3 separate regions of the Homo sapiens genome follow, and all the other regions are linked to region 3. The links come from fine-mapping of genetic effects on gene expression. A gene starts in region 3. Each other region holds a variant in brackets. All regions are shown on one strand. Distances are from middle to middle.

Region 1 (2,807 bases), 45 kb before region 3:
GTTTCACCAGGTTGGCCAGGCTGGTCTCAAACTCCTGACCTCAAATGATCCACCCACCTTGGCCTCCCAAAGTGCTGGGATTATAGGCATGAGCCACCACACCCAGCCTCAACATGAGCTTTAGAGGGGACAACATCCAAACCCATCATGCCCCTTTACATAGTAACACTTTCTCCCAAGTTGTCTGTGCAGCTGAAGTTTTCCTCAGCTGCCCTACTCTGTGAACTTAACTTCAGATTAATCTTTAGGCCATAAAATCATTGGTAGTGTGCATAGAGGTATGTAGATATACACATTTACCTAATAACTGTATCATGTAAAACATCCTTTGGCAAGGACAGCATCATACTGAATGCTTTAAAATTGCTCATTTGGGTTGATGGGCTTACAGTAATCCAATGTGTGAAAGTCTAGATTGAACCTCAATGTATCTTTTATGAGGCTCTTATTTTAAAAGGATCCTCAACCATGCTTTTTAAAGTATCAAACTTTCTCTGAGAACCTTGTCTAGACTTAAATTTCCAACCACATCTTTCCACAGTTCTGGGCTCACATGACAAATGTGCAGTGGCAATGGTGCTTTCCTGACATGCCAGTTAACTGCAGCTCATTCTTTCAACAACCATGTATTGAGTAAGCGCCAGACTAGCAAGTATCAGGAAAATGACTGACAACCCAAAGATTAGAGGAAGTTAGAGCAAGGCAATCACGCCTAGTGAGGATCGTCAAGGAAAGCTCTGTGAGAGAATTCACATGGTGATGGGCTCTGAAAGATTAAAAAGGGGATAACTTGGGATAAAGGTATAGACGAGATGATGGGAAGGTTGGAATCATGACTTGTTCAATCTGGCTGGAATATAGGGGATTTATAGGGATACAGAAGAGAAGGGTCTGGAAAGGAAGGTTGAAACTAGCAAAGACAGCTGTATTAGTCTGTTTTCACGCTGTGATAAAGAACTGCTTGAAACTGGGTAATTTATAAAGAAAAGAGGTTTAATTGACTCACTGCTCCAAATGGCTAGGGAGGCCTCAGGAAACTTACAATCATGGTGGAAGGGGAAACAGGCACATCTTACATGGTGGTAGGCAAGAGAGCGAGAGAGAGAGCGTCTGAAGGAGGAACTGTCAAACATTTTTCTAACCATCAGGTCTTGTGAGAACTCACTACCATGAGAATACCATGGGAGAAACTGCCCCCATGATCCAGTCACCTCCCACCAGGCCCCTTCCTTGGCACATGGGGATTACAATTCGAGATGAGATTTTGGTGGGGACACAGAGCCAAACCAAATCAATGGCTAAGAACAGTAGCTGAGGGGTTTGGACCTGCTTCCTTCCTCTGAGAGGGCTGACACCTTGAAGTTCTTTAAGCAGGGACGGTGGGGTCAATGCAACGCCAAGGACCATGAATGTGAGTACATCATGCAGGTCGGGCAGAGGAGAGATCACAGTTGCCTGGGAGAAAGGCAGAAAGGTCCGAAGTGGGACAGGGCAGATTCAAAGAGGACTTTGCAGAAGGGTTTGGGAGGATCTGAGACGAAGTGCATATAAGAGGGCAGAGTCAAAGATGACTAAGAT[A/T]ATTGAGGAAGGACACGCAGATGGAGCCAGAGAAGGAAGTGAAGCAGAACCAGGGTAGGATGATGGTTTGTATGACTTCCCCAAATAAACCAAGTGCATCTTGGGAGTCCCAGTGGCCTCTGCTGCCTGTCACCTCTGCTGTGTGAGAGTGTGTGGGAAAGGGCCAACCCTGCAGACAGGGAGTGAGCCTCAGCCCGATGAGCTAGGTGGTATTTTCTTCCTCTTGTGGATTAGGAAACACACAGAGAGGTCAATTAACTTGCCAAGCTCTAGTAACTGGTAGGGCCGAGATTTGAATTGAGATCTTTCTGACCCCTGACCCTGAGCCCTTAAGCACTATATTAGTATGATGATGTCTCTGAGGAATGTTGAAGCAGAAAGGAGAAGTGGGAGATTCATTTAAAAAAGCATAAGGCCGGCTGGGCGTCATGGCTCATGCCTATAATCCCAGCATTTTGGGAGGCCGAGGCGGGCGGATCACAAGGTCAGGAGATTGAGACCATCCTGGCTAACACATGAAACCCTGTCTCTACTAAAAATACAAAAAAAAAAAAAAATTAGCCAGATGTGGTGGCGGGAACCTGTAATCCCAGCTACTCGGGAAGCTGAGGCAGGAGAATGGCATGAACCCGGGAGATGGAGCTTGCAGTGAGCCGAGATCGTGCCACTGCACTCCAGCCTGGGTGACAGAGTGAGACTCCATCTCAAAAAAAAAAAAAAAAAAAAAATAGCGTAAGTCCAGTTATGGTGGCTCATACCTGTAATCTCAATATTTTGGGAAGCTGAGATGGGAAGACCACTTGAGACCAGCCTAGGCAACATAGTGAGAGACCCCAATTCCACAAAAAATTAAAAAATCAGCCAGGCATGGTGTCATGATCCTGTAGTTCCAGCTACTTGGGAGGCTGAGGCAGGAGAATTGCTTGAACCCAGGAGGCGGAGGTTGCAGTGAGCCAAGATTGCGCCACTGCACTCCAGCCTGGCGACAGAGTGAGACTCTGTCTCAAAAAAAAAAAATTTTTTTTAATTTAAAAAATAAAAATAGCATAGCATGGGCATGAGGCAAGCCCCAGATTAGGTCATAAAGGGACCAAATTTGATGGAAGCCTTCAGCCTCAGGGACTCTGGTGCAAAGAAAGCAGCTGGCTCAATAAAGGGATACATACATATATATATTTTTTAATTGATACATGGCATTTTACATGTTTATGGAGTATGGACTTTTTTGA
Region 2 (2,807 bases), 200 kb after region 3:
TCTCTAAAGTTTATAAGGTTTTCTATGTAAACAATCATCTGTCAATGAATAATATCTTTTTTTCTTGTCTTAAACTGGCTAGGTCATCCTTTACTGCTGTTGAATAGAAATGTTTTCTAGTTTACTAAGAGTGTCTGTCAGGAAATGGGTATTGAATTTTGTCAAATGCATTTCATGTCTAACGGTATTAATATATGACTTTTCTTCATTCTCTTAATGTGGTGAATTATATGATAGATTTTTTTTCTAATGTTACCCTTGCATTCCTATGGTAAATGCCACTTGGCCATGATATATTATCCTAGTGTATTTGATTGGTTGGTTGATTAGATAGATAGATAGATAGATAGATAGATAGATAGATTTTATTAGCTAATATTGTGTTAAAGTTTTTTTATGTATCTGTGTTCATCAGGCATATTGGTCTGAAAAGACCAAAAGAAAGTAATTTTTTTTTGTACTATCTTTGTCAGATTTCTGTATTAGAGATATGCTAACCTCATGAGTTGGGAAGTTTTTTTTTTCTCTGCTCTTTTTTGGAAGAGTTTGTGAAAGGATGGAATTATTTCTTCTTGTTTGATAGAATTCTTTTTTTTTTTTTTGGTGGGGAGGGGGAGACAAGAGTCTCACTCTGTCGCCCAGGCTGGAGTACAGTGGCACAATCTCCGCTCACTGCAACCTCCGCCTCCCAGGTTCAAGCGATTCTCCTGCCTCAGCCTCCTGAGTAACTGGAATTACAGGCACCAGCCACCACTCCTGGCTATTTTAATATTTTTAGTAGAGATGGGGTTTCAACATGTTGGCCAGACTGGTCTCGAACTCCTGAACTTAAGCGATCCGCCCACCTCGACCTCCCAAAGTGCTAGGATTACAGGAGTGAGCCACCACGCCTGGCATAGAATTCATTTTGTAATCATCCGGGCTTAGAATTTTCCTTCTATGTAAGAAAATATTAAGGTTTTTAAAAAGGTTTGATTACAAATTAAATTTTTAAAATACGTATTGCAGCAGGTCTGTGATTCTCAAAGTGCTATTATTGGACCTGGGGGCTGCGGAGAGGTTGGGAGGAGGGGGGATCCTCAGGACCCTTTGAGGAAGCCAATAGA[A/G]TCAAACATTTTCATAGTGGTACTGAGACATTTCTACTTTTTTCACTGTGTTGACATTTGCACCGATGGTACAAAAACGATGGTGGGTTTTGTAAAACTGCTCGTGCCTTAGCACAGATCCAGGCAATGGCACCAAACTGTAGTAGAAGTCACTGTATTCTTGACCACCATAGCATTTTCACTTGAAAGAAATGCCAGTGCTACTTAAGAGTATCCTTCATAAGCAGTAATATTTTCTTAAACTCAACCCTGGAGTGTATATCTTTTTAATATTCTGTCTGACAAAATGAGATGTACACATAAAGCAATTCGGCTGCTTAGTATGTAATAGTTGTCTCAAGGAAAGGCATTTGTGACCCTGAACTTGAAAGAGCATCTATCTGATAGACAAACTAGGGTTATTTGGATTTGGATATTTGGCAGTTGTTTCCTCAAAAGTAAACAGTGAGCCTATCACTTCAAAGAATACAACTGACAGTATTTGTTGTCAATGATAAAATTACAGCTTTTCAGGAAAAGTTTGACTTTTGGAAAACGTGTATCCACCACTGTGAGTTTGACATCTTCCTAATACTTGAAGATTTAAATATCTGTACATTTCACAAAGTGCCATTGAAGTGAATAGACTTTCTTGTAAAGAAATAATTTCTCCCCAGAAAGCACCTCCTTCATGGCCTTATAGTGTTTCTCATCAGAAGCACCACTGGCATTTTAAGCAGCACACATTTTCTTAATACAAGACTATTCCTTTCATTTCTGGATATTTAACACCCTGACCTCCGCCAATTAAATGTCAGTGACACCTCCACCCCCATCATTGTGACAATTGAAAGCACACTCACAGTTGCAAGCACGATCAAAAAGAGCAGGGGCATCCTTGTACATGGTAGCTTGTGTTTGGCTGGACTTGGGTGGAGGAGGCTGGGAAGATGGACCGTGGAATCACCCTCTATACAAGTGTCACAGTCCTCTGCATATCTTTATGGAGAGTGCAACTTCCATTGAGATTTTGCTTTACATTTTTCAGATTCCCTCCAAGTTCCCTAAAACCAGTATCCATTTGATGGAACAGATATTAAACCAGAGGAAAAGTATAGCTCTTCAATGTTTATTGGCTGGAGGTTGCAGGTATGCTGCAGGAAGGGCAGTTGTAGAGAAAAACATTTCATCCTGCAGTGCCACAGTACAATATAGAAAGTAAGATAAAGTTCTAAATGGATAGGCTATTAAGAGAATGTAGTATTTAGAAAAATTTGCAATATTGTTGCCTATTTGCTACATATGTAAAGGGGAAATACAGCCTAATTCACTTTGAATCAGATGTTAAGCACAGAACCTTCCCACAGCTAATTCTCTTGGCTCTGTGTACTCTGTTGTAGAAGTAAAGTAAATCAATTAGAAGATATTTACGGGGCCTGTGTACAATATTATGTTTTAGCATTGAGCAAGGAAAAACACTAAATTTTGGAGAGAATGATTGAACCTCAAAATTTTTGGTAGGAGTAGAAAAAACATTATTAGAAAAATAGAATTCGTTGAGGTTCAAGAATGGGATGGAATTTTGCATTGAAATAGAAAGTATGAGATGCCTAGAAAGGAATATTTAGATATATAAACTTGGGCACCAGAAATCAAGGAAAGGCCAAGTTATGGTACACCTGGCCTCCGCTGTGTCAATCATTATAGCATTAGCATACTGCA
Region 3 (2,646 bases):
GTCTTCAAGTTGTATGGAAAATACAATTAGATTACATACTTTTTGTTTTTTAATTTATTATTTATTTATTTATTTTTTTGAGACAGGGTCTTGCTCTGTCACACAGGCTGGAATGCAGTGGCATAGTCATGGCTCATTGCAGCCTTGAAATCAAAGGCTTAAGTGATCCTCCTACCTCAACCTCTCCACTTGGGCTCAACTGATCCACTCACCTTGGCCTCGCCTCCCAAATGCTGGGATTACAGGTGTGAGCTACAGCACCCAGCCTTTTTTTTTTTTTTTTTAAGGCTTAGTTCAACTCTTGTTGAGTAGTAATTTCAGTTAGTCTGATTTAAATAAAACCAAAATAGATAAATAATCTAATAATGGAATGACTTTTTCCCATCCTCATTATTATTTTCTTGGTCCACGGTTTATCTGTTGTCAGGTTAACCTCTTGGGCCTGAAGTGGTAATAAACTAACAGGCTTTCTTTGTCACTTTGGCAATACAAGTTTCGGTATTGTTCTCTGCTACCCAGTGGGACAGATATTAAAGTCAGCAATGGCCCAAGACAGTGTGAAACACCGCCGCCCCCCCCCGCCAACTCCCCGCCCCAAACAAGCAATAAAGAGATCTAGAGAAGGAAGGGTGAATTGATGAGCCCTTCAGGGAGAGCTGGATCACAAAGGTGGTCTCTGTCGAAGATCAGAGAGACTGAGGGTCTACTGGACATCACAGGCCATTATCATTTGGGCCAAGATCCACCCATCCTCTTTATTTTCTCACTCTCTCTCAAGAGGAGACTCCTCCGGGGTTTAGAAAAGCTGCATGGATGCACCTCTCCACTTTTCTGCACAAGTATGCCTTCCATTTCACAGAAGTGTTATCTGTTAGAAATCCCAACAGATAGCTGATGAGGACAGAGCCTGAGCACTTCTGAATTGCTCTGCCAATTTCTCAACCTAATTTCCCTAAAGCTTAAGGGCCTCTTAGAGTGTATACAACATCTATTTCCAAATTTTGTCCTGGCCCTGGCCCAGCCCAGCCAAGCCCAGCCCAGCATAGGTGTGCTGTTAAAACTTAATCAGGAGAAAGGGATTCTTATCCTGGCCCTACCACTTAGTAGCTGTGTGACCCTGGGTAAGTCATTTACACTTTTCAGTCTCGGTTTCCTCATCTGCAAAATGGAGATAGAAATATCAACCCGAAGGGCTATTGTAAGAATTATATGACAAAAAGTGAAGGCTCTTTGTACAGTGCTAGGCTCATAGTGGCTGCTCATTCGCTCATCCATTCCTTCGTTCCTTGAATTCACCAAGCCTTCTCCATCTTCCTAGCTCCCCCTTGTCATCGCCTCTCGAAACCTTTTCCCCCCAAAAGGTTGCCTTCCAGTTATCTTCCTTCCATCCCACCTCCATTTTTCCAGACTCTCCGGATCCTCTCAATCAGAAGCAACACAGACACCTACATCCCTCTTCTCCCCCATATTCTCCTTACCTGGCGACCGGGCCCCCAGCACAGCAGTGGCAGCAGCAGCCGCTGCCGCAAACAAGCTCCCCCAGGACAGCTCCAGCCCGGAGTCCACCTGAGCCATTTGTCCCCGCCCCCTCCCTCAGCCCTGCTCCAGGATTGGGCCGTTTCCGTCAGTACTCTCTCTGATTGGCTGTCCCGGTTTCGCCCGAGCAGGAGATGGGGAGTGAACCCCTTTACTGCCAATCAGCGGTTGCCGCTGCCTAAGCCTCTCCCCAGGTACGCCGCTCACGCCGTAAGCCCTCCTGTTGGACCTAGCGGAACTCCGGGTTTGGAGTCAACCTCTTAGGGGCGGAGAAAAAAACAGCGGAAAAAAAAAAAAAAAAGAAGACTCCCTTCAGCTGAGGGCAGGGCTCTGCGCCCGCGCTGCGCGGCGGTGACGACATTCGCCCGCGTCCGCAGCTGAGCGTTATGAGCGCCTGCGCAGTGGCTCCGAGCGGGCGGTTGCTTGTTGGTTGTTGTAGTAACCGGGGAAGCAGCCGTCGGCGGCTGCCCTGAGCCTTCCTGGGGAAGGAGGAGGGAGGTAGGCGCAGAGCGCGGTCCACGCCTGCTCGCCCCGAACCATGGGAAGATGAGACAGGTAAACGCCTGCGCCCGCGCGCTTCCCTACCCTAGGGAGGAGCATTCCCGGGTCCGGGCTGGCGCCTGCAGCAGGACTTCCCGCTCAGAGCCCGGGAGTAGCTGTTGGCTTCCGGGCGCGCCGCGTTGAATCGCGGCTGCGGGGTCGTCCCGTCCTTCCCGGGGGGAGCATCTGCGGACCTACGTGGGATTGGGGTGAGCTGGGGGTGGGGCTGAGAAGCAGATTCCTTTCGGGAGAGGAGTCTCCTTAGGTGAGTATCTCTACTCTTCTTCCGATAGACCTGTTTCTCCCCGCTCTGCAGGCAGCCTAGGAGAGGTTGGCATCCCTTCCCGTTTGGAGGTTTTGTTTGTTTAAACTTAAAGGGCTTCCCAGCATTTTGGGAAAGATCAAGAAATCCCGTTGAGAATCCCCTGAAGAAAGCCATTGAAGTTGTTAGACATTGCCTATTGCGCCGAAGATCTTTGATCATTATCGGGGTCTGTTTTTTTTTTGTCTTATTTACAGTCTCATCGTATTTATGAATGCATGGAAAAGTTAAGAAGGATTGACAGCAAG

Direction of the effects. Alleles are on the strand shown, and positions count from the first base shown. SD is a standard deviation of normalised expression in the study named. Not every link is listed here.
As copies of G replace A in region 2, the expression in monocytes after R848 of the gene that starts at base 1,580 in region 3 goes up (large effect, 1.8 SD a copy in Quach 2016).

What was found. PIP is the estimated chance that this variant, and not a neighbour inherited with it, causes the effect.
Region 1: its variant is the best candidate, but not a certain one, in a credible set for the expression of ERG28 in monocytes (TOPMed, PIP 0.72).
Region 2: its variant is the best candidate, but not a certain one, in a credible set for the expression of ERG28 in monocytes after R848 (Quach 2016, PIP 0.51).

The regions. Positions count from the first base shown.
Region 1 is chr14:75,613,743-75,616,549 of GRCh38, forward strand. All of the region lies in intron 1 of FLVCR2 (FLVCR choline and putative heme transporter 2), which reads left to right. Among named protein-coding and RNA genes, the nearest start is that of FLVCR2-AS1, 36 kb to the left of the region's middle. The variant A/T (reference allele first, on the strand shown) is at 1,579.
Region 2 is chr14:75,857,055-75,859,861 of GRCh38, forward strand. The region is part of intron 28 of TTLL5 (tubulin tyrosine ligase like 5); the gene reads left to right. Among named protein-coding and RNA genes, the nearest start is that of TGFB3, 120 kb to the right of the region's middle. The variant A/G (reference allele first, on the strand shown) is at 1,107.
Region 3 is chr14:75,659,297-75,661,942 of GRCh38, forward strand. It overlaps ERG28 (ergosterol biosynthesis 28 homolog), which reads right to left and starts at 1,580. Exons shown (of 5, transcript NM_007176.4): 1 at 1,479-1,580. TTLL5 (tubulin tyrosine ligase like 5) reads left to right here and starts at 1,950. Exons shown (of 32, transcript NM_015072.5): 1 at 1,950-2,091. RefSeq lists a silencer at 1,642-1,691 and an enhancer at 1,802-2,021.